Linked DNA regions of Homo sapiens: regions 2 and 3 are each linked to region 1. The links come from fine-mapping of genetic effects on gene expression. A gene starts in region 1. Each other region holds a variant in brackets. All regions are shown on one strand. Distances are between the middles of the regions.

Region 1 (2,764 bases):
GAAGCTAAGTCAACCAGTGAGTCGTGTAACCTTTATATGAATTCCCTCCTGAAAGACTGGAACCATACCCCTGACTATTCTGGAGCAAGGGAGAGCAGATAACTAAAGCTCTCCAGCAAGCAAAACAAGGAGAAGGGATTTTAGGAACATGCCTTTTCTTTGGAAAGGCATTTTTTAGTACCCCACCTACTAATCTAACGCGGCGCGGAAACCTTGCAGAATTTGAAAACAAATGCTGAGAGGCTCCGGGGGACCGGTAAAGGGATTAGCAACTGACAGCTCGGCCTCGGAGCGAGAAGCCTCAAGTAGTTAGATCAAACCGTGTCAACGATCTGAAATCCAGGGTCCACCCCAGTGAGCTTAGAGAAGTACAGCAGCAGAAGGTAAGCAGGGGTTTGGCGTCTTTCAGTCCTAAAGATGCGGGATATCGGAACTGAGAGAGACCTAGAACCCAAGCCGGGCAGTTTGCCTGCTCTCACCTCTCTTGGGGGCTTTGATCAGAGGCACCCCTCCAGTCCTCTCGCCGTTTTCCTGCTTGTCCTTGTGCTTGAGATCGGTTCCGCAGGAGCTGGGATCACCATCGGGGCCGCGGTGGTGATGGTGCTTGTGCCGCTCCTTGTGGCCCTTATGCTTGGGCCCGGCCGCGCTCACCGTCAGAGGCGAGAAGGTGAAGAGGGCCGAGGTGCTTGGGGCCGGGAGAGGGGCAGCGACAGCGGGCCCGGCGGGTGCCAGCGAAGGTGGCGGCGGAGGCGGCAGGAGAAGAGGCTCAACAGGGCCTGGGACAGTTGGGGCTGCATTCGTTGGCGGCAGCGGCCCAGGATGTTGGCGGCTGCGACGCCGCCGGTGAGGGGGAGCGAGAGGGGGCTCCTGGCTCGGCCGCCCCCGCTTCTCCTGAGACCCCCCACTGCTAGATCGGCGCTGCCGTTTAACTCCCCGCGGGGAGACCCCAGCATGAGGTTTCTCCTTCCCCTCTTTGTCCGGCTCCTCCTGCGCCGCCACCGCCCGTACTACGCGCACCGCTCCGACCTGCGCAGCCATTTCACCCACAAACACACATTTAAATGGCCCGACCGCCCCCCCGTCCGCGCATCGCGCAAGCGCCGCCCGCGCACTGCCCGCTGGGCATTGGAGTCTCTCCTCCGCCCTCCACTTGTCGGCCGTTCTTCGTCCAGAGATGAACATGCCGGAAGCGGCCGTTCCCAGCTTTTCTCCGCAGGCCTCTCCAACCGAGCTTCTATTGTAAAGCACCCTATGCCGCGCAAAGCGTCATGGGAGCTGTAGTTCCGCCGCGCCCCCGCCGCGTCCCCGGCTCTGAGTGGAGGAGTGGAAAGGGAGCGTGCGCGAAGTCACGCTTCTGGCTGCGACGCAACCGCCGCTGGGCGGTGAGTTGCCGCCAACCGCCCTAACGGCCGAAACAATGTTAATGGCTTTCAGAGTCTGGCGGCGCGTTCCCATTATCATCTTCCTGTGACCCTTCCTCATTTTACACGGAGGAGGTGGTCTCCACAGTGATTTTAAATTTAATATTTCTCTCATAACCTTTGTGAGATAAAAGAATCTTCATCCTTTTAACTTTGACGAGGGATGAAATGAAGGTGAAAAGAGGATTTAGTAATATGTAAAATAAGGGTGGTTTTGCTGTAAAAATATGATAGGGCCGCAATTCAGAAATGTTTTCAAGCATCTGGGGCATTGCTATGGTTACAACTACAGGCCTACGAAGTCAGGTGCGAGAACTGCTTGGAGTCCTGGTGAGGACGGCCCCTCCTCGCCATCCGGCCACATCCCCTCTAATGCCTGGAAATGTCCAGCATTTATTTTGAATATATCCCTACAGTTGCGAAAAATTGTAGATGGAAAACCACGTTTAAGATTTTTTATAAGTTTTTTTTTTTCAAATCTTAAGGATAAGATTGCATAAATTTGAAAAGTGTGCCTACCGGAGAACACACCAAAAATCATCACTGCTCACTACGGATAGTTGTTGCTCAGAAATTCATTTAGAATTTCATCCTCGCTTTAGCTTTTACCTGGGGTTCTTTTAAGTATTTATTTAGAGACGGGCGGGGCGGGGCTCGGTGTCTCAGGCCGGTAATCCCAGAGCTTTGGGAGGCCGAGGCGGGAGGATTGCATGAGGCCAGGAGTTCCAGATCAGCGTTGGTAACATAGTGAGCCTCTGTCCCTACAAAAGTATTTTTTAAATTATCTGGGTGTCGTGACACGCGCCTGTAGTCCCAGGTACTCGTGAGGCTAAGGTGGGAGGAGTGGTCGCACCACTGCACTCTGGCCTGGGTGACAGATCTAGACCCTGACTCTTAAAAAAAAGAGACAAGGTCTCGCTCTGTTGACCAGGCTGGCCTCCAACTCCTGGGCTCAAGGAATGAGTAGCTGGGTCTACAGATGCACTCATGGTGCCCTAAGTAACTCATGGTTACCTAGAATTCTTTTAGTATATTTGTTTATTGATAAAGACATTTGGAAGTAATTGATTACAATGATATATACTCAGCAGATAAAATTACTGTGGTTTGATTTCACTAGTTTCTGGAGAAGTATTACCTAAACACTACTGCAATGAAGTCAGTTTAACAACCAAAAAGTTTATTGAGTGTCTGTTGGATACATTGTACTACAAGAGACAGATAATAATACTTCATTCAATTTGCCCTATTGGACTTCCAAATGAAAAATACTGAAGAACAAATGATGTTTAAACAATACTACATGTTTCTAAAAGTTATAAATAAAGTTATTTAAATAAAAA
Region 2 (2,764 bases), 37 kb before region 1:
TACTAAAAATAAAAAAAAAAATTAGCCGGGCATCATAGCGGGAGGCTGTAGTCCCAGCTACTTGGGAGGCTGAAGCAGGAGAATGGTGTGAACCCGGGAGGAGGGGCTTGCAGTGAGCCGAGATCGCACCACCGCACTCCAGCCTGGGTGACAGAGCAAGACTCTGTCTCAAAAACAACAACAACAACAACAAAAAACAACTAGCCAGGCATGGTGGCAGGCACCTGTAGTCCCAGATACTTGGTGGGGCTGAGGTGGGAGGATCACTTGAGCCTGGGAGATGGGCTACAGTGAGCCCTGATCATGCCACTGCACTCCAGCCTAGGTGACAGAGTAAGACCCTGTCTCAAAGAAAAAACAAAAACAAAAACCAAGAATTGGTTAAATAAATCTTGATACAACCATACAGTAAAAATTCCCAAGTTTTAAAGTAAACATCACACAAAGAATGGATTTTGTAAAAAGATTATTTATGGCTATATATAATTTGAAAGGTTAATATGCCTAAATGGTGGCTACCTTTTTTTTTTTTTTGGAGATGAAGTCTTGCTCTTGTCCCCCAGGCTTGAGTGGAGTGGCACAATCTCGGCTCACTGCAACCTTCGCCTCCCAGGTTCAAGCAATTCTCCTGCCTCAGCCTCCCGAGTAGCTGGGATAACAGGCGGCTGCCACCATGCCCAGCTAATTTTTGTATTTTTAGTAGAGATGGGGTTTCACCATGTTGACCAGGATGGTCTCGAACTCCTGACCTCAGGTGATCCGCCTGCCTTGGCCTCCCAAAGTGCTGGGATTACAGGTGTGAGCCACCATGCCCAGCCTGCCTTCTTTCTACTCTTCTTTTTTTTTTTCTTTTTGAGATGAGTCTTACTCTGTCGTCCAGGCTGGAGTGCAGAAGCACCATCTCAGCTCACTGCGACCTCGGCCTCCTGAGTTCAAGCGATTCTCATGCCTCAACCACCTCAGTAACTAGGATTACAGGAGCGTGCCACCACACTAATTTTTGTATTTTTACTAGAGACAGGGTTTTGTCATGTTGCCCAGGCTGGTCTTGAACTCCTGGACTCAAGCAATCTGCCTGCCTCAGCCTCCCAAAGTTCTGGGATTACAGGTGTGAGCCACTGCACCTGCCCTCTTTTTACTCTTTCCTATTACTTTTTTCTTAAGTTTATAAAAATCAGGAAACAAATGATGGTCATTTTTTGAGGAAAGATTACAGAACAAAAAATGTATATAGTATTTAACAATTTAATAAGATTTCAAGATTCGTCATCATCCTGCAACAAAAACTGCTATAATCTAGCAATGTGCAGAACTTTCAAATGACTCCTGGGTTTTTACCATGCCACCACCCTGCATCGTACATAATGTTTTCAAAGTATTTTCATACATTTCAAGTACCTAAGATTATTCCATACTTAGCTCAAGTATCATTCTCCTATGAGCCTTAAGTTAAGGTTTAGATTAGTCCATTAAAA[C/T]TCACTTCTGGGCACTTATTTTGAATTGCTATTTTCGTAGTCTAAGCAGGTATAGATCATTTTCAGTCTCATTAAATTAGATTTTTCAAAGTACTAGAGAGTGAGTTAATCTACATTTGTCTTCAAAGTCTGAAACACAAAACATGTTAGCACAATATGAATTACTGAGGCTCGGTCCTATAGAACATTATTGGTTTCATGTAGCAAATACTGGTTACCTAGTATATGTCATGAGGACAAAGATGAATAAAATAGTCCCTGTCTTCCCAAAGCACACCTCAAATGTTAGTAGAAAATAAAAACATGTAAACAAAACTTTAATGAACAGAACATTGTAGGGAACAATTAATTACCTAAGGAAGGAAAGAAAAACTTCACAAAGGAGGTGACGTCCAAGTTAAGTTTTGTTTGGTTTTGGTTTGGGTTTGAGTCAGGATCTTGTCGTGGAGTCCTGGGCTCAACTGATCCTCCTACTTCAGCCTACCAGGTAGCTAGGACTAAAGGCATATGCCACTGTGCCCAGCTCAAGCTAAGTTTTGAAAATGTATTAAGTTTGCTGTGGGACGGTAACCCCAGCACTTTGGGAGGCTGAGGCAGGAGGATCATTTGAGGCCAGGAGTTCAAAGCCAACCTGGGCAATATGGTGAGACCCCATCTCTACAAAAATAAAATACACAAAACAATTTTTTTAATCAGATGGGCATGGTGGTACACACCTATAGCCACAGTTACTTGGGAGGCTCTCCTGAGACCAGAAGTTCAAGAATACAGTGAGCTATGATTGTACCACTGCACTCTAGCTCTGGGCAACAGAGTGAGACCCTATCTCAAAAAAAAAAAAAAAAAAAAAATAGTGCAAAAGCAAAGAGTTATGATAGACTATGGTTTGGAAAGTGAATTCGGTATGGCCGGAGAAGACTAAACACAGATACATCTAGAAGAGGTACAGTTGACCTGATTATTAATGTAAACCACACTAAGGGGTTTGATCTTTTATCCTGCAGGCAGTTAGGGCACAGGTTTTTAAAAAATAAGTAAAAATTAAATTTGTGTTTTAGAAAAATGCCTCACTGTGATAACTGTGATGATTGGACTGAAAAGAGGAACCGACAACTAAAACATTTACTTAAGGGAGCCCAAGACAAATGGTTTTCAAACTGTGCTCATTTTTATAAGCAACCAACTAAAAAAAAGTAGTTTTGCTTATTTGAGAAAAAGAAATATTTACCGTCGTCTTTTGAAGGGTGACTTTGGCATATCTGCTGTAGGGATCATCTGTTCTCCTGGCC
Region 3 (2,764 bases), 32 kb before region 1:
TTGCCTTAATAGGAAACAGTCTACATAAATGACCATCTAGGATATCTTACCACAATTCTTCACCATTTGTTCTTTAGCAGCATTTTTAGAATCAATTTTTTTCCATAGACAATTTAACATCACCCACACATATATACACAGAAAAAAAGGCTGTAGATCTTGTTCTCAAATAGCAGGGGTAGGGATTTTTTAATTCCTTACAAATCCTCCCCCCAAGATCACTTTAGATGATTCTTAAGCAGCAGCCACCCAGGCCAGAATTACTTTATATATATTCATATGAATTACTTTCCATAAGTTTGGTATGATCATCATGCCATAAAAAGCCAGGGGTGGCAGCATGGAACAAAGGCTCATCATGGGATATAGAGATAAGGAAGGGGAAGAAAGGTAAGTCTTTTTAAATCATTATTCTAACCTTTCTAAGCACTCTAAAACAACTAAAGTAGATTTAACCTTCAGCAACATTTCTAGGAATCATATGCTTTTAGGGGTAATAAGAAATTATCAGTCTCGGCCAGGCACGGTGGTGCATGCCTGTAATCCCAGCACTTTGGGAGGCCAAAGCAGGTGTATCATGATGTCAGGAGCTCAAGACCAGCCTGGCCGAGATGGTGAAATCCCGTCTCTACTAAAAATACAAAAATTAGCCAGGCACGGTGGTGCATGCCTGTAGTCCCAGATACTCGGGAGGCTGAGGCAGAGAACTGCTTGAACATGGGAGGCGGAGTTTGCAGTGAGCCAAGATCGTGCCACTGCACTCCAGCCTGGGCGACAGGGCAAGACTCCGTCTCAAAAAAAAAAAAAGAAATATCAGTCTCCCCCAAACACCTCTCCCAACTATTCCCAGTCTCAGAAATTCCTTTACTAAGAAAGGCTTTCTCTCTATACAGGCATTTTATGGGACAAATGTCCTAAAGACCTATCATGATCTTTTTAAAATCTTTTTCCCAGCCAGAAGTGACTCTTAAGACCTATCCTAATTTAAAGCAGCCAAAACTCAAGACCAATCCTAAAGAAGTACACTGCCATGTGGCAGTTTTCAATTTACTTGGCCTGAGATTATACAACTCAATGCATTATTAATTTGAAGGAATTCATACTACTTTAAATTTTACACACAAAGTGAGACTGAATTAATATTCTTATATCACACCACTCCAAGTTTACCTAATTCAAACACCACTAAACTCAACAGCACTGAACTTGAAGACAACTTAGAAAGGTAAACACCTAGAATAATCAACATGTGACATGAATAAATATGAAGCATCTTTTCCTATTTGCAAAGAGAATAAAAAGTAAACCTAAAAAAGAGGAAGGCGGGAGCAACAGAAGACAAAGAAAGGGTATGACCACAAAATATAGCGACCTCATAATTTCGCCAAGACCAACATGTTTATTTTCATATATACACAAAGAAAAGCTTCTCATCTTACGAGGATCTTCAGGTTCACACCTTTGTGTGAGTACCAATGTTGTATCCATGAGTGACAAAGAATTAACAATGTTCAATTTTTATTTCCTGGCAGAAGAGCCATCAAGTAAACAACTATGCTACAAAATACTAGGACTGGATTTTGAAAGCTGCAATGTATAAAGCCTATTTGGATAACTGTAGCTAACTTAGCCTAGCTAGAGAAAGCCCTTATTAGTAAACCACAACC[T/G]TCCTGTTTTCATTCCTTTACTTACATGAAATTAGACCTCTAGCTTTCTGTGACCTACGTTTTTTTCTCAGTATCAGTCCCCTCCTTCTTTCAGCTGCTTCCATATCTAGTCTAAACCTCAAGGTTTATCCCTCTCTCATAAACACACTCTCATCCTCTATCCCAGTCCTTCCACCAGCCCTGCCTGCAAACCCCAGGCCTGAAACATTCAAACTATCCATCCCACCTCTGGACTTTTCCATTCCATAGGCCAATAAATCTCTTTCATCATTTAAGCCCATTTTAAAATTGACTATCCTGCAACTTGCCATCAAAAGCACCAAGATATATATACCTTTTTCACATAAGAATCCTACTTCTGTAATACTAGTCTGTAGTACCTGTCTCTATTGCCTCACCTCACCTTTTATTCACATCTCATATCATTGCAATCAGGCTTCTGCCCATACCACTCCCCTGAAACAAATCACTGATGACCTCTTCACAACCAAATTCAAGGAATGCTTTGCAATCACCTGCTTTCTTGATTTCCCTTTCCAGGCTTCCTCCTCTCCAAAACGTGGTTGTTGCAGAGTTGGCCCAGTTTTCATTCCACATATTATCTGTGGGTGGTTTCAATTATACTACAGATTTAACTACCACCTGTACCCTACTACATTCCATATCTACATCTCTAACTTAAAACTCTGCCTCAGATTCAGATCTTAACATACAAATGCCTCCTGGGCAGCCCACAGACACCCTCAAATTTAATACCTACAAAACAGAGCTCGTTTTTTTGTAAGGTTCCCTTCCCCTCCCAAACCTTCTTTTTCTCCTTCTGTATGTACTTCGCCGGTTAATAATATTCATTTTCTCAGGTCCTAAATCAGGAATTGATAAATCCCTCTTCCTCATCACTTAAATCAAAATCTATCCTTCTAACTAAATCTGCAGTACCACTGCCTTAATTCAGGAAATTATCATTTCTCACCTAATTGTAAAACCTCTTAACCAGTATCCTTGCTTCAGGATTCCTATCCCCAAGAGCCATCCTACATACTGCTACAAATAATCTAGGAAAAAACATCTTATCATTCAACCTTCCCATTTTAAAT

The links. PIP is the estimated chance that this variant, and not a neighbour inherited with it, causes the effect.
Region 2: its variant is fine-mapped to the expression of RSBN1 in whole blood (TOPMed, PIP 0.90).
Region 3: its variant is fine-mapped to the expression of RSBN1 in whole blood (INTERVAL, PIP above 0.99).

The regions. Positions count from the first base shown.
Region 1 is chr1:113,811,231-113,813,994 of GRCh38, forward strand. RSBN1 (round spermatid basic protein 1) reads right to left here and starts at 1,246. Exons shown (of 7, transcript NM_018364.5): 1 at 480-1,246. The coding sequence starts at 1,182. PTPN22 (protein tyrosine phosphatase non-receptor type 22) reads right to left here. Exons shown (of 21, transcript NM_015967.8): 21 at 2,581-2,764. AP4B1-AS1 (AP4B1 antisense RNA 1) reads left to right here and starts at 1,382. Exons shown (of 5, transcript NR_125965.1): 1 at 1,382-1,595. RefSeq lists enhancers at 57-586, 311-370, 521-610, 587-1,116, 991-1,380 and 1 more.
Region 2 is chr1:113,774,507-113,777,270 of GRCh38, forward strand. RSBN1 (round spermatid basic protein 1) reads right to left here. Exons shown (of 7, transcript NM_018364.5): 4 at 2,704-2,764. Among named protein-coding and RNA genes, the nearest start is that of PHTF1, 16 kb to the left of the region's middle. The variant C/T (reference allele first, on the strand shown) is at 1,476.
Region 3 is chr1:113,779,226-113,781,989 of GRCh38, forward strand. The region is part of intron 2 of RSBN1 (round spermatid basic protein 1); the gene reads right to left. Among named protein-coding and RNA genes, the nearest start is that of PHTF1, 21 kb to the left of the region's middle. RefSeq lists an enhancer at 1,486-1,535 and a silencer at 1,646-1,755. The variant T/G (reference allele first, on the strand shown) is at 1,668.